Regions from separate parts of the Homo sapiens genome. Here region 2 is linked to region 1. Evidence: fine-mapped expression QTL. Tissue or cell type: whole blood. Region 1 holds a variant in brackets; the other region holds the start of a gene. All regions are shown on one strand. Distances are between the middles of the regions. Region 1 overlaps FAM185A (family with sequence similarity 185 member A). Region 2 holds the start of FAM185A (family with sequence similarity 185 member A).

Region 1 (5,384 bases):
AAACTCCTAACTCACTGGCCCCCTATCAAATTATCCTTAAAAACTCAGATCGTCAGATTCTCAGGGAGACTGATTTAAGTAATAATAAAACTGGTCTCCTGCATAGCCAGCTCTGCGTGAATTTCTCTTTCTCTACTGCAATTCCCGTCTTGATAAGTTGGCTCTTTCTAGGCAGTGGGCAAGGTGAACCTGTTGGGTGGGTTACAACATTGTGAATTTTACTTTGTTGGGTGCTGGATATTTTTGTATTCCTGTAAATCTTGAGCTTCACTCAAGGATGCAGTTAAGTTACTTGGAAATAGTTTAAGCCTTTCATCTCTTGCTTTTATAATTTGTTAGGCAATTATAGAGTGGTGCTCAGCCTAAGACTGATTGTTTCCCACTACTAAATGCTCTACCCAATGCCCCATGAGTTATGATTTTCTTTCCAGTCTGGTGGGAAGAACAGGCATTATTCCTGGACCTGTGTGAGCACCAGGTTCTATTCCCTCTGGTACTTTGTCCTGTGAACCCTGTCTTGATCTTTATCGACTCTCATCTTGATCTCCCTAACTCAGGGAGTGTTCTAGACTCAAGAGCAGTTCCCTTTTCCCGTACTGGAGCCTGGAGACTCTCTCAAGGCAGTAAGCAAGACTCATCTTGTTTGTTTCCTGTATCTGCTTAATTTTTAAATTTTTTTGTCATTGTTTCAGGTGGGAAGGTAAGTCAGACCCTTTAACTCCATCCTGCCCAGAAGACTTCATTATTTTTCTTTCTCCCTCTCCCTGCCTTCTTTCCACCCTCTTTTTTAACTTATTTTGAAATAATTTCATACTGACAAGAAGTTACAAAAACAGTAGAGAGAGGTTCTGTATACCCATCACTCAGTTCCCCTAATGGTGACAGCTTCTATAACTATACTGCACTATCAAAACCAGGAAATTAGCTGGCAAATTAACTGGACTATAGACCTTACTCAGATTTCACCAGTTTTTACATGCATTCATTTTTCGGGTATGTCTTTGTATATACTCATGACATTTTATCTATCACATATATAGATTCATATATAACCATCATTTTAATCAAGATATGGAACTGTTCTGTCACTACAAAGGAAGTCCCTTGTCATGTCCCTTTAAAGTCATACTGTCCTTCTCCTTCCCTAACCTATGGCAACCACTTGTCTATTCTCTACATCTTTAATTTTGTTGTTTCAAGAATGTTATATAAATGGAATCATAGAGTATGGACCATTTTGAGATTGGCTTTTTTCACTCAGAATAATGCCCTTAAATTCCCTTCAAGTTGTTTACATCAACAGATTGTTCCCTTTGTCGGTGAATTACCTTATGTGGACATACCATGAGTCATATGAACATTCAGTCATGGAAGGATATTTAAGTCATTTCCAGTTTTTTGGCTATTACAAATAAAGCTATGAACATTTGTGTACAGGTTTTTGTGTGAACATAAGTTACATTTCCCCAGGATAAATGCCCAGGAATATAAATGCTAGGTGATTAATGGTAGTTTCTTTTTTTTTCTATTTTTTTAAGAAACTGCCAGACTGAGTTATAGAGTAGCTGTATCATTTTACATTCCCACCAGTAATGTAGAAGAGATCCAGTTTCTCTGCACACTTGCCAGCATTTGAATAATCGGTATTTTTAATTTTTGCCATTCTAGTAAGTATGTAGTATTTTATTCTGGTTTTAATGTGCATTTCCCTAATGGCTAGTGATGGTAAATATCTTTTTGTGTATTTTTTTGCCATCATATATCTTCTATGGTTGCACTGTTTCTTAAAAGTTACAAGATTAAACTTTTGTGTGCACGAATCATGTTTTCTTCACTACTGGGGATAGTTCACTTAGGATAAGGATTTGGCTATGGTTTAATATTTCTTGAATGACCAAAATAAATACAAAGACAATAATAAAACAAAACCCCACAGGCATCACAAACAGAACTCATAATGCTCTGAGATTGGGGCCTGCTCTTTGAACTCTAGTCTAGGGATCAGCAAACTATAGCTCACAGGCCAAATCTGGCCAGGGGCCTGTTTTTGTATGCCCTGAAAGCTAAGAAGGGCTTTTACTTTTTTTTTTTTTTTTTTTTTTTTGAGACAGAGTCTCTGTCACCCAGGCTGGAGTCCAGTGGCACGATCTCGGCTCACTGCAATCTCTGCCTCCTGGGTTCAAGCAATTCTCCCTGCCTTAGCCTCCCGAGTAGCTGGGATTTCAGGCACCCGCCACCACGCCCAGCTAATTTTTGTATGTTTAGTAGAGACAGGGTTTCGCCATGTTGGCCAGGCTGGTCTCTAACTCCTGACCTTAGGTGATCCACCCACCTCGGCTTCCCAAAGTGCTGGGATTACAGGCGTGAGCGACCGTGCCCGGCCGGGCTTTTACATTTTTAAAGGGTTATTTAAAAACAAAAAAATATATGCAACAGAGTCCATATGTAATCTGCTAAGTCTAACATATTTACTATATGGTGTTTACAGATAAAGTTTGCAGATGAATGGAAAGAAAACCTGATCTTCTTTTTTGGGGCAAACATTAACAACATTGACATCTGATTACCCATGATACTCTCAAGATCTTATTCTTTAACAAAAAGGTGGGGAAATAAAAACACCATAAAAGCGGCCGGATGCAGTGGCTCACGCCTGTAATCCCAGCACTTTGGGAGGCCGAGGTGGGCGGATCACGAGGTCAGGAGGTGAGACCAGCCTGGCCAATATGGTGAAACCCTGTCTCTACTAAAAATACAAAAATTAGCCGGGCATGGTGGCGGGCGCCTGTAGTCCCAGCTACTCAGGAGGCTGAGGCAGAAGAACCCCTGGAACCCGGGAGGCAGAGGTTGCAGTGAGCCGAGATGGTGCCACTGCACTCCAGCCTGGGTGATAGAGAGAGACTCCGTCTCAAAAAACAACAACAACAACAAAAAAAAA[AC/C]ACCATAAAAGCACTATGACGTGAAAACAGTTCCTACATTAACTCCCTGTCAAAGTATTTTTAAGCAGATACCTATAAGCCTTAGAGCATTCTTCATTCTGTTATTGAATTTCTTCCATCTGGTCCTGAAATATATATACATTGCTGACAAATTCATGTGCTCTAAGCTTTGAAAAACCAAAAACTTTAGTGGGTTCTAAAATCAGAGCTATTTCCAAGAGTTAGTCATATCAAAAGACTGGATTTTTCCCGATTTGGAGAGAAAACAGTGTCTCTAGATTTTTAAAGTGGCATCTTATGAGCTTAGTCCCATTTCAACCTCTTCCAACCCATGAACGAGTATTCCACTATAAATAACAATTCCATTGTATGTTATTACCCTCTGTCCTTTAGACAAGCTAAGAACTCTTTTCTGACTTGGTGGTTTATTTTTATCCCAAATGAATTTATGTTGTATATGCTTTATATTTCCAGTTTTACTAAAATGAGGTAAACCCAGTAGTGCTAGCTTCCCTACTATCCAGACAATGACAAACACCAATCCGTTCACTGGCAACGCACTTTACCTCTAATATTCTTTGAACATTTAAACATCTAAATTGTGGAGTTGTAAAGACCAAAGGACTTTGTACAACATGCATACCTGGGCTTGGAGACTTGATGTTTACCACAGTCAAGTTTCATATCTAAGTTGATGAACCAAGTCTAAAACCTAATAGAGAAGCCAACTTATTAGAAGCATCTTACCTAAGCCACTCACAACATGTTAAATTTGCCACACATGGGTAGAGGACAAAACTTAGAATCAAGACTCTCATGAAGATTATAGAATGCAGCCCCAATACACACTTGTGCATAGCTTTTTAGTAGGTAAATGTTTCAGCCTGAGAGTCTCAGGTTTCCTTTTGACCTCAGAATAGCACATAATACGTGTAAATCATGGTAGGAATTATACACCTGAGTTATTTATCAGTGACAGCAATAGCAAAGGAAACCATGGAGCAGGAAATCAAATAAAATTATAGAGCTGACACATCAAAACCCTGTGGGAAGCTGGAACCTAAGGGAATAATTTTACTGGCATGGCTTCTTGCAGAGATTATCCAGAAGTCATGCTGCAGATAAAATCCAGGCTTTTAGCAATAAGAGTATTTCTATTTTTATCCCTCATGGGCTCTATGAGGAAGGCCAAGATGAGCTGAGCTCAGCTGCCTATAATAATAGCTCACATATAAAGCTGCTCATTATTTCCAAAATTTGGTTTCAGATTGGAAATCTCCACAGAAAAAAGCAATCTGCCCTGATTTTCTAGGCCTCTTAAATTATTTCATCCAGTTGATACATAAGGCCTGTGGCTGACTGGGTACCAAACAGTTTTAAAACCAAAATGAAATATGGAAGTTTCTCTTAAACCCAATCACCTGTTCATACTCACAGCTCCCTCCAGAGACTGCTGCTCTCTTCACCTGAGGTCCATTATTACTTTAATGGATTTAATTTGCTATCAGAGACAACATACAGATCCATCTGGGGACCAACCTCATAGGGTAGTCTGTGCTACTCTGCAAAACGATGCTTGATCAGTACCTAGATTCTTCCACTGTGAACAGGAAATAAACTCATCATTCTGCGATTTGGCCCTTCCTGGTTCAGGAGGTGGGGCCGGAGTATAAGCCATAATAACAAGTAACACACAAAAAGAACTCAATAGGCTAAGGCGCTTCATAATAACCAATGAGGTAAGCATGCATCTTCCTCATAGCATTCATTCGTCTTTATATTCAAGCAAAAGTTACTGAAGGCCTATTTATTTGCTGAGTTTAAGATAGCTCACTATGGAGTCCAGGCCCCTGTACTCCTTCTGCTGAATTACTGCAGTAACCTCCTAAAAAGCAAAAGTTGTTTTTTTCTCCTTCATCCACCATTGTTCTTTCTCATCTATCCCCACTCAACATTCAGAGTGATCTTTCTAACACAAAAATCTGATTATGTGAACCCCAAGTTAAAACCTTCCAAGGGCTTCCCAATGCTCTTAATATAAAATCCAAACTGTCCCATATGATCTGACCTCTCCCAAACTCTCCAGCCTACTTTTATGCCACTTTCCCCTTTACTCTCTATACTTTGGCCATATTTGACTTCTCTCACTTCCTCACCCCTGTGTTCTCACAGTACAATGTACATACGTTTATAACATTGATCCCACTGTACTGTATTCTCTGGTTTGCCTTTCCTCACTAGAATGTAAGCTCCTCAGAAGGCAGTGAGACCATGCTTTATATTACCCTTGCACTCCTAGTTTCCGGCAGTGTTGACTCAAACATTTGTTGAGTAACTGAGCAAATAAAGAAAAATAGAAAAGACAGGAGAAGGAGGAGGTAGGCTAGGGGAAGATAATTTTGTTTTTAAACATTAAGTTTTAGGTGGCACTGGTTTAGTGGAATA
Region 2 (5,384 bases), 45 kb after region 1:
AGTATATATGATCATGACTTAGGTTTTCAAATCCTATGTCTAACCTTTCATACTTAAAAAATGAAAATATTACCATGCAACTATATCACAGGTATTTGAAGTAATTTTTTAAAAATGGGAACAACTTTGAAAAAGCTAATATATACTATTAAAACTACAAGATTAGGCCATGAGCAGTGGCTCATGCCTGTAATACCAGCACTTTGGGAGGCCGAGGAAGGAGGATTGCTTGAAGCCCAGGAGTTCAAGACCAGCCTGGACAATGTAGCAAAACTCCATTTCTACAAAAAAACAAAAACATTAGCCGGGCATGGTAGCATGCACCTGTAGTCCCAGCTACTCAGGAGGTGGAGGCGAGAAGATTGCTTAAAACCGTGAAGTCAAGACTGCAGTGGGCCATGATTGTGCACCTGTACTCCAGCCTGCGTGGCAGAGTGAGTGAGATGCAGTCTCAAAAAAAACCAAAACAAACAAACAAAAAACCCCACAAGATTGTGGACAAATGGCAGTGGTATATGAAGCAAGTTTGGAAAATAAGGAATTACAAATGCCATCCTTGGCTGTCTATTTAAGATGTAACTGCAGGCATCTCTGTATACAAATTTTAAAAATTAAAAACGCTGATATTTAATTTGGAATTAACATAAATATTGATGATTTCTCTTAAAGTAGGCAAGACCCGCCCCCCCACTTGATTCCTGAAACCACAAATAGTACCAAATCCTATATATTCTATGTTTTTTCCTGTATACATATCAATGATCAAGTTTAATTTATAAACTAGGCATAGTAAGAGATGAACAATAATAACAAATACAGCAATTATAACAATATACTGTAATAAAAGTTATATTACTGTGATCTGTCAAAATATCTTAATATTTTCCTACAACAGCTGAGGCAGGTAACAAACTGAGACAGCCAAACGGTGGATAAGGGAGGACTACGGCATCTACTATTTGGGCAACTCTAAGCATTATAAAAGATGATCTTAAAAATGCTAAATGCTATTATTATTACTATCATCATCATCATCAATATCTTCCATCAGTCCCAGGAAGAATGACAGTCTGGGGAGCCCTTCCTAGAAAAGTGTGTGTACACAGTGGCTTGCCATTTAGGAAAAGCTAAGAAAGGTATCTTGCAGGCATTATTATTGAAGCTTCCTAGGCAGGCTTACCATGTGTTTTTCTTCAAAGCTTGCTACTCATGGAAAACTTAGGCCAAAAAGAATGGAAATATAACAGTAAGAAGCTGGGCGCCCGTCTAAAACCAAATACTCAAACCAGGTGATACCCGGAACATCCTATTGACAGGGCTGTTTTGGGACAGACCCCCAGGCTGTGAGCAAGATGAAATGTAGATGGACTGCCATACCATTGAATGAATTGTCAAGAAACTTCAACCTTGAAAAATAAGCCAGTTTGCTAATGACAACGGGATAAAGGAGAACACAAGCGGCTCCAGAAATAGAATTTGACCTGGATTATACCAAATCATGTTTCCATTCGATGTATAAAATTTCTATAATTGGGAACCTAATTTTTAAATACTACTCGGACACTCAAGAACAGAACAGAGGAAAAGGTGCATTTCCGAAGGGGCCAACTGTAAATTAGGTTTAGAGAGCCAGGACCAATTAAAAGTGCACGTCGACCACATTTATTAAGTTCACTGTGCGTTCCCTGGGACCCAAACCCGTTTTCACTTCACTTCACTTGCCAAACTTCAGGGGCGCGTTCACCTCCACGGACGCCTGGGGGTGGATAGTATCAGACACAATGGCCATCTCCTCCAGATCCTCGTCGTACTTCACCTGCAGGCCGTCCAGGCCCCGCACGCCGCCCTCCACGCCGCACACCGCGACCAGCACGCGGTCGCCATCCGGGTAGGTGAGGGGGTCCAGGGGCCTCACGGCCAGGTGGCACGGGAGCCGCGCCCGCAGCCGACCAAACGGGCTCACCTGCAGTGTCCACTCCTTCAGAGTTCGGCGCCCCGGGCCAGGCGGAGGGACCTCAGTCTCCGATCCGGGCCAGCGCTCGCTCCCACCTGAGCTGTACGGCCTGGCTTGGCAAGCCCAGCAAGCCCAGCGCCCAGCGCCAGCCCACAGTCGGACCTGACGGAGACAGAGACGGAAGCAGCCAAGCTCCCAACCTGAGCAGGGGGCAAGCATGGCGCGCCTCTCTCGCCAGTCCTCAGAACACTTCAGCCACAGGGAGGGTCACTTGCCACGGCCAATCGACTTGGCCACTGTGCCGCCTCAAGTCAAATAGGAGACGTAAGTCAGGGTTTGCTGAAACAAGAGCGAGCCGGTTGGCTTGACTAGGCGTTCTAAACATCAGCCGCGCAATCCCCAGGGGCAAGTTGGGATTTGAAAGCTCTAAACTCTGACCTGGACCCCTTGCCTAAGTCCACCCCCTTTCGCTAAGGCCGACGGGATAGGTAGTTCTAAGTCGCAGAGCTCTGCCTCTTAGAAACCACATTTCCCAGGAGGCAATGCGCAGGGGAGCACGGGTAAGAGGGTAGGTGTTAGAATCGCTGGAAAGGCGGGCGCCCTTTGTCTCAAGACCATTGGCTATTGGAGGGGCGGTACATGGGAGTCCACTGGCCAATGGGAAGCACGGAAGGGGCAACGCGGGTAAAGCTGCGTGGTCACCTTGGATACCAAGCACGCGACTTCTTGGTTGGAGAGGGTGGAGCTTTGGAGTGAGACCCAGGACGCCAAATCCCAAAGAGAAAAATAGGAGCCTAAATAAGGATCAGGACCAAGGGAAGGGGTAAGAAACTGCGCTTTTTAAGATGACAACTAGGTGCAAACTAGGAGTAACCTCTGTGGATGTCAACATCCAAGCTTCACTAACTTAGTGAGGGCATCTCCAGGGCATGGAGAATGCCTTGGTAAGAAAGTAAAGAGCAAGATTGGTGCTTTTTGAGGGAATTGCCTCTTTGGAAGTGTATTCCCTCCTATATTCCAAATATAGGAATAGAGTACTTGCTCCGTCCTGACCCTAAGTGACCTTACTTTGGGTTTTAATTTGCTCACTTTAAAAATGTAGATAATAATACCTTCCTTGCCTTGCCTCAAAGGGTTTTTGTAAGGATCAAGTAAGAAAATGGATGGGACCGTGGTGCACAGTCTACAAAATTACCGTGTAAAGAACTGTATTTTTATTTCAACGTACTTAACATTGATTCTGAGTTACCAAGAAAATTATGAGAGATCAGAACTTGTTTTGAGAATAGCATTGATCTCTTTGACTACAAATGATCCTCAGTTTTAGAGTGAAAAAAAAAAAAAAGACACAAAAAAGAGAGTCACCATGGTGCGGTGGAAAGAGCAGGGACAAGGGTCAGGTTATTTTCCTGGCTCTGCCACTGCTTCATCTGTGTCACCTAGACCTGTTTCTTTAGTTTTAAAATGAAGAAAGATGGTTCTAAATGACCCTATAAGGGGTGTGTGTGTGTGTGTGTGTGTGTGTGTGTGTGTGTTTACCTTTTATAATTCTATAGGCAGTAAAATAATGGGAACAGAAAGATTTATTTTCTTCTTTTTTCTTTTTTTCTTCTTTCCTGCCTGGTTTCTCTCTCCCCCTCTGTGCCCCTACTTCCTCCTAAAATGTATTCCCTAAATTATTTAGCCAAGACACCTGCAAACACTAACATTTCATAAAATGCAAGTGCCTTAAAAAATAGAAGCCCTTACCCAAGTACAATGACCAGAATTCTTGGGGCTATCGTGATAGATAGACTGGGCTAAAGTTCTCATGGGTACAAGTCTCAGGTTCTCTGCTAGCCACTACCTTTTTAAAATTTTTAAAAATTCAGTGTTCTCTTAAGTTATCATTGCCTCTTTTCTGTCCTTCTAGTCCTTCCTCCCTCCTTATTCTTTTGGTGAAGACTCACTCATTATAGGTGCTAGCTCAGGTTCAGCAAGGGCCCACTGCAATAGTTCTTTTCTTGTCTTTGTGTTTCATTGGTTATAATTATTCAGAATAATCTTCAAACTATTTTTTATGAAAATTGAGAGGTGTAACTTTGAAAAGAAATTTGAAAAAGGCACTGGTTTAAGGAAGTTGAGAAGGTACTCAAATTTTCTGTAGAAACACTAGACATTTTTAGATTAAATATTAATTCTAATAGTTAATTCTGTGTCTATGGTAATTTTTCCTTTTCTGAGACAAACTAAGTTAATGGAATTGGCAACTGAACTATAATTTTCTATGTTGCATGATCATTATTTTACTTTTTCAAATAAAAACCAAATAGAATTGACTGAAAATTTACTTTGCTGATCATACAATGTTGAAAATGGAGAAAATTATTAATATTAAGATTGGCATAAAATATTTAAAGTTATAGACACTTAAAAACAGTATAATGAGTATCAAATCTGTCCACATATCAACAGTGATTAATAAAAGTTGTATCTTCCATCCATATGACATTATAATTGTCAAACCATGTTCACATGCGTCATCTCAATGTATCCTCACTAATTAGGAGGGAAATTATTCTCCTCACACTATAGATGAGGATTCAGATTCAGAAACATTAAGATTAAGCAATTAGAAGGTCTGGCCCTTTTATCACTCTACCAAAACGTCCATTTTCCTGACACCTTTGAAGAAAAAATGAAATTATTCACCTCATAAGTAGAAAATTATATACAACTTTTTTCTCCTTATTTAGAGTTTGTTTCTAAGATATTTTCACATCTTAGTTTTAAAAAGCTATTTCCGTGGTCATGAACATATACTTCTGGTAGGAGTGTTAAGTTAGCACAAAATTTTTAGAGTTCAATTCAGCAATAAGAATGAAAAGCTTTTTCTATGACTCAGAAATTGTGCTCTTGGGGATGTAAGCATAAAATTAGGTATGCTCAAGGAATTACGTTTTATAGGGTTACTTGTAAGAGAAAATAATTGCATCAATTTAAATGCTCCCTGGCCAGGTGCAGTGGCTCATGCCTGTAATTTCAGCACTTTGGGAGGCTGAGACGGGTGGATCACCTGAGGTCAGGAGTTCAGGACCAGCCTGGCCAACACGGTGAAACTCCATCTCTGCTAAAAATTAGCTTGGCGTGGTGATGGATGCCTGTAATCCCAGCTACTCAGGAGGCTGAGACAGGAGAATCATTTAAACACAGGAGGTAGAGGTTGCAGTGAGCCGAGATCACACCACTGCACTCCAGCCTGGATGGCAAGACTGAAACTCTGTCTCAAAAAAAAAATGTTAAATGCTCGCAAATAAGACAGTATTACATAAATTAGTATATAGCTGATATATTATGCAACAATTTAAACATTATATCTTGATATGGGAAATAGTCCATATATAAAGTGAAAAGAATATATACAAAATTGCACGTATAGTATGATCTCAAT

Evidence for each region. PIP is the estimated chance that this variant, and not a neighbour inherited with it, causes the effect.
Region 2: FAM185A starts here. The variant in region 1 is the best candidate, but not a certain one, in a credible set for the expression of FAM185A in whole blood (TOPMed, PIP 0.66).

What each region holds. Positions count from the first base shown.
Region 1 is chr7:102,790,756-102,796,139 of GRCh38, reverse strand. The region is part of intron 7 of FAM185A (family with sequence similarity 185 member A); the gene reads right to left. Among named protein-coding and RNA genes, the nearest start is that of FAM185A, 44 kb to the right of the region's middle. The variant AC/C (reference allele first, on the strand shown) is at 2,939.
Region 2 is chr7:102,745,997-102,751,380 of GRCh38, reverse strand. It overlaps FAM185A (family with sequence similarity 185 member A), which reads right to left and starts at 2,382. Exons shown (of 8, transcript NM_001145268.2): 1 at 1,723-2,382. The coding sequence starts at 2,173. It also overlaps the pseudogene RASA4DP. RefSeq lists silencers at 2,393-2,562, 2,603-2,692 and an enhancer at 2,365-2,659.